Linked DNA regions of Homo sapiens: region 2 is linked to region 1. The links come from fine-mapping of genetic effects on gene expression. A gene starts in region 1. The other region holds a variant in brackets. All regions are shown on one strand. Distances are from middle to middle.

Evidence for each region.
Region 2: its variant is fine-mapped to the expression of CD101 in whole blood (INTERVAL, PIP 0.93).

Annotation. Positions count from the first base shown.
Region 1 is chr1:116,999,139-117,004,523 of GRCh38, forward strand. CD101 (CD101 molecule) reads left to right here and starts at 2,622. Exons shown (of 10, transcript NM_001256106.3): 1 at 2,622-2,722. The coding sequence starts at 2,680.
Region 2 is chr1:116,963,259-116,968,643 of GRCh38, forward strand. PTGFRN (prostaglandin F2 receptor inhibitor) reads left to right here. Exons shown (of 9, transcript NM_020440.4): 6 at 3,653-4,072. Among named protein-coding and RNA genes, the nearest start is that of CD101, 36 kb to the right of the region's middle. The variant C/T (reference allele first, on the strand shown) is at 2,424.

The DNA of each region.
Region 1 (5,385 bases):
TCACTGCAAGCTCCGCCTCCTGGCTTCATGCCATTCTCTTGCCTCAGCCTCCCCAGTAGCTGGGACTACAGGCGCCCACCACCACACCCAGCTATTTTTTTGTATTTTTAGTAGAGACGGGGCTTCACCATGTTAGCCAGGATGGTCTCGATCTCCTGACCTCGTGATCCGCCCGCTTCTGCCACCTAAAGTGCTGGGATTACAGGCATGAGCCACTGCGCCCGGCCTCTGTCTTTATTTTAAATGCCCTACTTCAGGCCCTTATTATTGCTCATAGAGACAACTACAAAAACCTTGTAACTGACCTTCTTGCTTCTAGCCTTGTCTCCCTTCTTCACCTTTCAACCTGTTAGCAATGCACACATACAGAATTCAACTTAAAAGGAAAAACGGAAAATCCAACCAGGCTATACTACCACTAAAAATCTTCATAGCTTCCCTCTTCTTTGAGGTATTAATAAAAGCCAAGCTCTTAGGCTTGGCACACGAAGCCCACTAAGATCTGCCCATCCTACCTGTATAGATCCTTCTTTCACAACAACCTCAAACTTCATTCCAACAAGATAGTACAGCCTGTGTGTTACTATTCATGCCACACGGTTTTTCCCCAACTGTACCTTGGCCCCCTGCCTCTCTAGATGACTCATTGACTCACCTGGCCCAGCCCAATCCATCTTGACCTTCCCTCCTGCCTACCAATTTTCCCCACCCCCTATAGGTGCCCCACTGATTGTTGACACATTGCATTGTGATTATCTGATTTAAGTGGAAGCTTCCTGAGAACTCTAGCACTAGCGTAGTATTAGTCTAGGTTCAGGGCCAACTGTTGCATTTAGATACTCCTCTGCCATCCTTGATACCTGGGTTCACATCGGTGTAACTGCCCATTAGCGTAACTGCCCAACAGGTTTCTCCTTGCCTGCTGCCCAGATAGAACAGACTTATCAAGACAGGAGAATTGCAATAGAGAAAGAGTTTAATTCACACAGAACCAGCTAAATGGGAAACCAGAGTTTTATTACTCAAATCAGTCTCCCCGGAAATTCAGAGACTGGAGTTAGTAAGGATAATTTGGCAGGCCAGGGAGTGGGGAGTGCTGATTGGTCAGGTAGGAGATGAAATCACAGGGGATCAAAGGGGGTTCTTGCAGTCTTCCGTTCCTAAGTGGGATCAAAGAACTGGTGGAACCAGATCACCAGCCTGGATGGTGTCAGCTGGTGCATCAGGATGCAGGGTCTGAAAAATACCTTGAGCACCAATTTAGGTTTTACAATAGTGATGTTATCCCTAGGAACAGTTGGGGAGGTTGGAATTGTGTGGCCTCTGGCTGCATGACTCCTAAACCATAATTTCTAATGTTGTGGCTAATTTGTTAGTCTTACTAGGGAAGTCTGCTCCCCAGGCAAGAAGGGGGTTTGTTTCCAGAAAGGGCTGTTATCCTCTTTGTTTCAAAATTAAACTAAGCTAAATTCCTCCCAAAGTTAGTTTGGCCTACAACCAGGAATTAACAAGGGCAGCTTGGAAGTTAGAAGCAAGATGGAGATGGTGAGGTCAGATCCCTTTCACTGTCATAACTTTCTCACTGTTACAATTTTTGCAAAGGCAGTTTCACAGGGCAGATGAAGATTTACTTAAATGTCTCATGATGGTGATGATGGTAGCTAATATTCATTGAGCAGTTACTATGTACCAGATATTGTTCTAAGTGCTTTAAATAAATTAGCTTGAAACTATCATTCTCAGCAAACTATCTCAAGAACAAAAAACCAAACACTGCATGTTCTCACTCATAGGTGGGAATTGAACAGTGAGAACACTTGGACACAGGAAGGGGAACATCACACACCGGGGCCTGTCATAGGGTCGGGGGAAGGGGGAGGGAAAGCATTAGGAGATATACCTAATGTAAATGACGAGTTAATGGGTGCAGCACACCAACATGGCACATGTATACATATGTAACAAATTTGCACGTTGTGCACATGTACCCTAGAACTTAAAGTATAATAATAATAAAAAAAAGTAAAATACAAAAAAAAAGAAATAAAAAAATAATTAAAAAATTAGCTCATTTGGCATTCACAGTAATCTTACAGGGTACCTACTATTAGTATCCTCATTTTAGCAATGAGGGTTAGGAAAAGTTAATTAAGTTTTCTAAGATTGCACAGTTACTAAAACTAGAATCTGCATGCAAACCCAGGCAGCCTGACTCTAGAGCCTGTAACCTTCAGCACCACCTCATGTCGCCCCAAGTTCATGTTTTTCAGGGGCCTTCTCCCATTTCTCAGTCATTTCCTCTCTCAAGAGAGGAGGAGAAGGAAGGGCCAAGAAGACAACATTGCTGGTGCCTTTTTTATTTATTCAGTTTACCTAAATTCTCTCATCATTACCAAATGACACATACTGTGAGCCAGGTTGAGACCCATCTTTTCTTAGTTTTATCGATATCTGTTTACTTAACCACAAAGATAACTTTTTTACTCCCAAATTTGAGTGATTAGTAAAGAGCTACATAATGTAACCAGTTTTGCTTTTCACAAGACATCTCTATTTCTCAGTGGGCTGAAAACCACACTTTTGCTTCCTCTTTACTTTGCAGTGAGAGCACAGCATTTGTCACTCAACCTCTGAATGTTAGTGACACTATTGGGACGAAAAAGGACTGTGCTGGCCCAAATGGCAGGCATCTCATATGTGGCATCTTTCTTTCTCCTTCTGAGTAAGTTTCATAATCCTTTATGTTTCTCTTGTCACAGGAGTTCATCAACTCAGGGTGCTGAGTGATGGAACAGGACAATTTGGTCTCTACAGGAACAACTATGCCATATATTTCTGATGTTAGCAATAATTTTTGACTTACTAATGACAGTTCTTGGCTTACCTAGACATCCTTGAGTTCCAGGGAGTCACAATGCTTGGTTGAGTCCCATGCACAAGATTCCATTGGTTTTAACATTTGTGTGTGTTGCCAGATCTGTCAGTTTTGCTTGGCCCTGGCTTTACTCATCTTCCTGGGCCGATCATCCCAAGAGACAGTAAAAAAGCTTTGTGTCCCAAACTGAGAGGAGACCTTAAGGTTTGCCTGATATTAAGGCTTGATGGGATAACTATGCCTTGCAGATATGACTGGATGGAAAGAAAGGTTATGAAAGTACTTAGTAGTTTTAGACTATGCTAAAAGAAGGTTCTAGATTTCACCTGCGAGTGGAAGTGGAAATTGACTACTGAGAGACTGAGAAATGAACAGGAAGATTCACTTGGCTCTACTGAGGGCCATGCAGAGGGGCTTGCCTGATCTAGGGGCATTTATCTATGTTTGAATAGGATGGAAGAAGAGAAAATTTGGAGGTAGAAGGGAGAGTCAGATGAGTTGAGCAGGTAATGGAATAGTTTCAAACCAGATAGCAGGTACTTTTTATGCTACAGTTTTCATTAACATCTGGTAAAGAGAATAGACTCCATCTCAGAATAATGTTTAAAATGCATAAAATAAAATGCATAGAATTACAGAGGAAATCAGTCACATTGAAATACAGGTATCAAAATATTTTAAATAAATTATAATGCAGTAATTTATTTGCTTCTTATTTATGCATTACATAACAAAATCTACAGGTAGGTCTTTTAACCACCAAACTTCAAAGTAATGATGAGTATAAATAACATTTCAATATATCTTAAGTAGTTGTAATGTGATATGAAGATATCTGTGGTTGTCTACATACATAACTGAAGAAAATACTAAATTTCCATTAGAGGCAAAAATGAAAATAAAGATGTAAGATTATTTTTCACCCTAGTTTATGGACCCTTTAATCCTACATGTGGACCCAGTTAAGAACTCTTGCTTTATAGCTGGGCATGGTGGCACATACCTGTGGCCCTAGCTACTTGGGAGGCTGAGGTGGGAGAATCGCTTGAACCTGGGAGGTGGAGGTTGCAGTGAGCCAAGATTGAGCCACTGCACTCCAGCCTGGGTGACAGAGTGAGATTCCATCTAAAAAAACAAACAAACAAACAAAACTCTTGCTTTAGAGAGACTGGATGGAGCCAGTGCAGGGACCCGAATGGCTGGGATGATTGGGGAACTAAACCAAGCTGCATTTGGTGTGACCAGGACTATGGCTGAAGAATTAAAAGAAAAGAATACAGCATTCAGCACAAAGAGGTTGCTTAATAAACATTGATTGAGTTGAATTGTGCTCATGTCTCTAGGTACATATGATAGTGTGAGGTTAAGAGTCAGACCTAGGGCCTGCAGGGGAAGTTACTGGGACCACTTGCTGGGTGACGGATGCCTGCCAGACTGGCTTGGCGGGTGTTGATGGATAGGTGCACTGGTGGGATCCTTTGGGGGCTGGTGTGTTTTTGTTGTTTGGTTAAGTTGTCTGAGTGTGATTCTCAAGTGTATGTGCTTTGTGTATTTGAATTCTATGTTTGCTATGTATATAGGAGGAAACTGGGTTTACATTGTGCAATAATTCATAGAATTGCAAATTCTGTCTCTTTTTTTGGTAAGCAGGCTAGAAGCCCTGGGGGAAGGAAAGTAGTAATCAAGGCTCAAAAAGGGGAAGCTGGAAGCTTTTCCTTAACCCATTTAAACAATTACCTAAACTGGGTTATACATTTACTTCTTCTAAATTCTGACTCATCTGAAGCACTAATTTTGTGTAGAAGCACAGTTTTTATGTGAAGAATACATAAATCAGGAAGTTACTGGAAAAAGCTTTAGAAGTCTGCTGTTTGTCCTTACAAATATAGAGGGGAATTGAAATAAATTATTTAAATAACGATCTATTGATCAATTACATTGGTTAGCAAATTTACACTTTGTCCCAATTTTTTTTTAGTAAATATAAGGACTGAACAATCCTGATAGAAAATGGTGCCATATGAGATTAATGTCATGGGTAAATGAGTTCTCGGATTTAGCAGTTAGCTTTGTCTGCTTGATCTATTTCCCCCACCCAAACTAGCTGCCCTACAAATAATGGCCATTAATATGGCAGGGTTTGGGGGAAGGGCTATTGTCTGTCTTACTGAGTTTGCATTCATGAAAAATAAAAAAGATTCCACTTAGTATGGATGGAAGCTATCTCAGCCTCCAAGCATATAGGGTTTTTGAATGTGAAAAGAGAAAGAAGCTGCTTGTTATGTTGGCTATTCCTGAGGTAGGTTTTGTATAAGGTAGCATTATTTGAAACTGCTGTTTTTTTGGTATAAAAAGTGCTCAAGTATGGACCATTTTATACAGTTCAACCTAATCGTTTTCATTCAAATAATACTGCAGTGGTAAATTTGACAATTCCAGTGATATTTTTAAAGAAAGTCAATACCATCGAGGAATTTTTGGTGTTTTGAAAGCATGATTCTAATGTTAGT
Region 2 (5,385 bases), 36 kb before region 1:
CCCACTCTCCTAAGTGATTACTGCATACCACCTTCTGTCTCTGCAAACCTCCTCCCACAGCTTCTCTCTCAGCTGTTGGCCCTGCTTCCTATTCTCCTAAAAGTAGAAATAATCAGGAGAATTCCCATTCACGCTGCCCCAGGGCTGAGACCAGGTCACGTGGCATATGTCCTGGCAGAGGCCAGCCCCTCTCACTACTTAGACCATGGCTGCTCTCTCTTATGTCTTTGGTAATTCTCTCCCTTCTGGACCTTTCCTATTGGTCTGTCAATGTGCTGTTAGATCCAGGTTTCCTTGGGTTTTTTAAGAGGGGGTGGGGAGTGAGGGTTGTGGTATTTTTTGTTGTTTTAGTTTTGTTTTGTTTTTAGAGACAGTGTCTCACTCTGTTGCCCAGGCTGGAGTACAGTGGTGTGATTGTAGCTCACTGCAGCCTTGACCTCCTGGGCTCCAGTGATCCTTCCACCTTAGCCTCCCGAGCGGTTGGGACTGCGGGTGCTCACCACCACATTCAGCTAATTTTTTTTTTTTTTTGAGACAGGGTCTTGCTCTGTTACCCAGGCTGACATGCAGTGGCATGATAATGGCTTATTGTAGCTTCAGCCTCCTAGGTAGGTTAAAGTTATCCTCCCACCTCAGCCTCCCAAGTAGTTGGAACTAGAGGCACTATAGGCCTCTATCATCATGCCTGGCTATTTTTTTTTGGTAGAGACAGGGTCTCACTGTGTTGTCCAGGCTGGTCTTGAACTCCTGACCTCAAACGATCCTCCTGCCTTAGTCGCCCGAAGTGCTAGGATTACAGGCATGAGCCACCGTGCCGGGCGCCCCCCCTTTTTTATGCTAGTCTTGATCTTCCTTCTTCATCCGTCTTTCTGTTTCCCACACCCATTTGTCTACTTATTACTTTTTCCTTTTATAACAACAATATTTGACGTATATATACTCAGTGTGTCTGGTTTTTCTCCTTCCATTCTCTCTGGTACCTACTCAAATCAGGCTTTCCCCTCAGCTGCTTGTGGTAAGATGGCCAGTAATCATCATATTGGAAAATCCTATTGTCAGTTATTTTCTTTGACTTAGCAGAATTTAACGCAGGTGATTCCCTCCTCCTGGGAATGCTTTGGTTTTTCCCTTGGCTTGTGGGACACTGCCTTCTCAGGGCTTTCTTCCAACTTTATTAGCCATTTCTCAGCCTCCTTTTCTGGCTTCTGTTCATTTTTTGGACCCGGAAACATTAGACTACCTCAGGACATAGTCTTTGGACATAGTCCTTGGACTTGGACTTCTTTTCTATTTAACCTCACCTTCTTGGTGATGTCTCTAATCTCATCAATTTAAATACCATCTAGAAACCAGTGACTCCAGATTTACATGTCTACCCCAGGCCTCTTTCCAGAACTCCAGACTCAATATTACATTGCCTCCTTGACACTACTTGACTAACAGGCATCTCAAGCTTCTGTTCAAAAGGACGCTTCCCATCACATCTGCCAGCTCTCTTCTCCCAGCTTTCTCCAGCACCATTGTTCTAGTGGCTCAGCCCAAAACCTTCATCCTTGACTGCTCGTTGTTAAAATTGACTTAGAATCTGGCTACTTTTCACACTCTGCCATTTATGGCGCCACCCTTGCCTGGATTACATCCCTGGCCTCCCAGATCGTCTCCTTGCTCTGCCCTAGCACACAGCAGCTGGAACAATCCTGTTAAATATAAGTCAGGTCCTGAAACTCCTTCACTCTAAACTTTCAAAGCCTCCCCATCTCACTCAGAGCAAAACCCAGAGTCCTCTAAGTGGTCTTAGATGTTCTGTACCAACTGGTCACATTACCTTCTGGCCTCACCTAGCACCCTCCCCAGCACCCACTCCATCCAGCCACTCTGCCCTTCCAGGCTCCTCAAATACACCAAGTGTGCTCCGGCCTTGTAGCTTTCTGCCTGCTGTTCCATCAGTCTAGAATGCTCTTCCCAAGATAGATAGGACTTGCTCCCTCACCTCCTTCAGGTCCTTTTTATTTATTTTATTTTTAATTTTAATTTTATTTTTTTAGAATCACAGTCTTGCTCTCTCACCCAGGCTCTCTCACCCAGGCTGGAGTGCAGTGGCACCATCATAACTCGTTGTCGCCTCAAACTCCTGGACTCAAGCCTCTCAAGTAGCTGGGACTATAGGCACATGCTCTGTGCCTGGCTAATTATTTAATTTTATTTTTAGAGGCACGGGGTTTTGCTATGTTGTCCAGGTTGATCCCAAACTCCTGGCCTCATGCAATCCTCTCGCCTCAGCCTCTCTAATCAGTGAGATTACAGGAATGAGCCACTACACCCAGCTCAGGTTCTTTTTAAAATGTTGCCTCCTCAGTGAGGATGTCCCTGATCACTCTATTTACGGTTGTGGCACACACACCTTCCTTCCAAATACAAATCCA[C/T]GCTTTTTCTCTTCCTTGGCTGCTTATTATCTCTTAAACATTTATCACCATATAACCATACCATATATTTTATTTGTTTATTTCATTTGTCTTCCTTCACTGGCATATAAAGGGAGGGATTTTTGTATTTATTTGTTCACCGTTATGTTTCCAGTACCTGCAGTATGGAAGGCTGTCAATAAATATATGTTTAAATTGATGAATGAATGACCGAACTCACAGGAAAATCAAGAAAGAATGTGGTGGCTCAGTAGAAGCTCAGCAGTCAGTGGTTCTGGAGAGAGTTCTTAATATACATGTTCTGCTAATCGGTTTGGTGGAACAAGTGTTCCAAAAAATCTAACGTAAAAATCTCATCTTGTAACTGGATGGATTATAGGATTAATCATCTTATTAAAGGATAAAAAGAATGTATCTAATTCATTTATTCATCCACTCAACAAATATTTAAGCACCTTCCAAGTGCCTGACGTTGTGCTACTATAATAGATGAATTCTAATGTGTACATGCATAGGCATTGTTGTTTTGACAGAGACACAAGGAGTAATCCACTTAAACCTAAAGTTAGCGTAGCCATAGACACCTCTCAAAATGTTTAAACAGCATTTCTGAAATTAAAGTGTAAAGCAAGTGGAAATTATTAGATCTGCAAATACATACGCTACAGTCATTTTAGCAATACATCTGTTCTGTAATGTCACTATCATATGATTAAACAGGGAGAATTCATTTCTCCCTTGCTGCATTCCTCCCTGCAGGCTAGCTTAGCTAGGGGCACTTCCCCTGCACTTAGCAGACCCCTGGGGAGGAGAGGCAAATGGTATGGCCAGGAGCCTGGCTTGGAGGTCATGGTGTTGTGTTCAGCCATGTCTTTCCCACCTTTATAGGAGTGTCCTCTGCCTTGCATCTTTTGGAGCACCAATAGCGGGTTCCCAGATTCTTCCTGGTGAAACTTCTTAAGGACTTAAAAATCCTTAAAACCAGTTCTCACCATAATTTCCTCTCTCCTGACACCCACTGATTCATTTCAGACTATTACTTTCAATGGGGTGGTTTTAGCCTGCTTATAGATACACATGATTTTCTTTCTGAGTTTCCAGATTTTCGTAGGTGCTTTTGTGTGGCAATTTGCAAATACATTTCTGTTTCTTGGTTATTTTGCTTTTAGTTGCATTTTTATTTTAACTGATCTTGTTGGAAATCACATCCTTCTGGTCATTCATTCCAGATTCCGTGCTTGTGGTGAAGGCGAGGCAGCCAAAGCCTTTCTTTGCTGCCGGAAATACATTTGAGATGACTTGCAAAGTATCTTCCAAGAATATTAAGTCGCCACGCTACTCTGTTCTCATCATGGCTGAGAAGCCTGTCGGCGACCTCTCCAGTCCCAATGAAACGAAGTACATCATCTCTCTGGACCAGGATTCTGTGGTGAAGCTGGAGAATTGGACAGATGCATCACGGGTGGATGGCGTTGTTTTAGAAAAAGTGCAGGAGGATGAGTTCCGCTATCGAATGTACCAGACTCAGGTCTCAGACGCAGGGCTGTACCGCTGCATGGTGACAGCCTGGTCTCCTGTCAGGGGCAGCCTTTGGCGAGAAGCAGCAACCAGTCTCTCCAATCCTATTGAGATAGACTTCCAAACCTCAGGTGAGCAGTGAGCCCTGTTGAATCATAGGTGGAGCTAGAAGAGACCCTAGGGTTTTGATCAGATGCCCTCATTTTTTAAAACAGCTTTGTTAAGATGCAATTCATATGCCATACAATGTACCTGTTTAAAGTGTGTAATTCAGTGGCTTTTCATATATTCACAAAGTTGTGTGATCATCACCACGACCAGTTTTAGAACATTTTCATGACCCCAAAAGAAACCTGGACCCCTTAGCCAATACCCTCCATTCACACTCCATTCCCCACCTCCCATTCTGCAGCAACCATGATCTACTTTCTGTCTCTATACATTTTGCCTATTATGGACATTTCACATAAATGGAATATAATATGTGGCCTTTCTATCTGGCTTCTTTTTTGGAGCAAAATGTTTTCAAGGGTCATCCATATTGTAGCATGTATCAGTGCTTTGTTCATTTTTATGACTGAATAAGATTCCATCGTATGGATATCCCACATTGTGTTTATCCATTCATCAGTTGATGGACATTTGGGTGTTTCCAGTTCTTGACTGTTACAAATAATGCTGCTGTGGACATTCATGTACAAATTTTTGATGAATGTATGTTTTCATTTCTGCTTTCATTTTAAGAAAATGAGCTGAAGCTCAGCTACTTCAAATACTTTAGGGAACATAGTGGAGTATAAAGAAAGAGAGGAGGGAATTGAGCCTCCCAAGGTGTTAAATGACTTGCCAAAGTGGAAGATCTTTAACATCCTCTGTCTGTGTATGTGTGTGTTTCAGTAGGAAGATGATTTAAAAGTATTTAAACCCCAATCTTATTTAGAATATGAATGCAAAGGATTATCATTTGTGAGTTTAATACTAAGTGTTTTCACTAACTCTGCCCTGGGTTCCTGGGTTTTAGTTAGAAATTTCTGAATGTATAAATTAATACTTATCTGTAAAAATTCAGGTGTCAATTGAATCATACAATGAATGCAAGATATTTGTTGAATTAAATGATTAGCATTTATATTAAAGGTAAGCTAGACTCTAATAAAGTTTTTCTATTAATATTATTTTCTATTATTATAGCCTTTTATGGTATATAATATATACCATAGTGAAATAATCTTCTAAGATCTCTTGACCTTTAAATTAAAGGGTAAATATTGATTTAAGCCCTTAGATTTGGAGAAAGCATAGGCCTCCTTTATTGTGTATCTGTTTGTTTTTAATAGCAGCTTTATTGAGATATAACTCACATACTATAAAATTTACTATATATAGAGTGTACAATTTAGTGGTTTCTAGTATATTCACAGAGTTGTGCAACTATCACTACTAT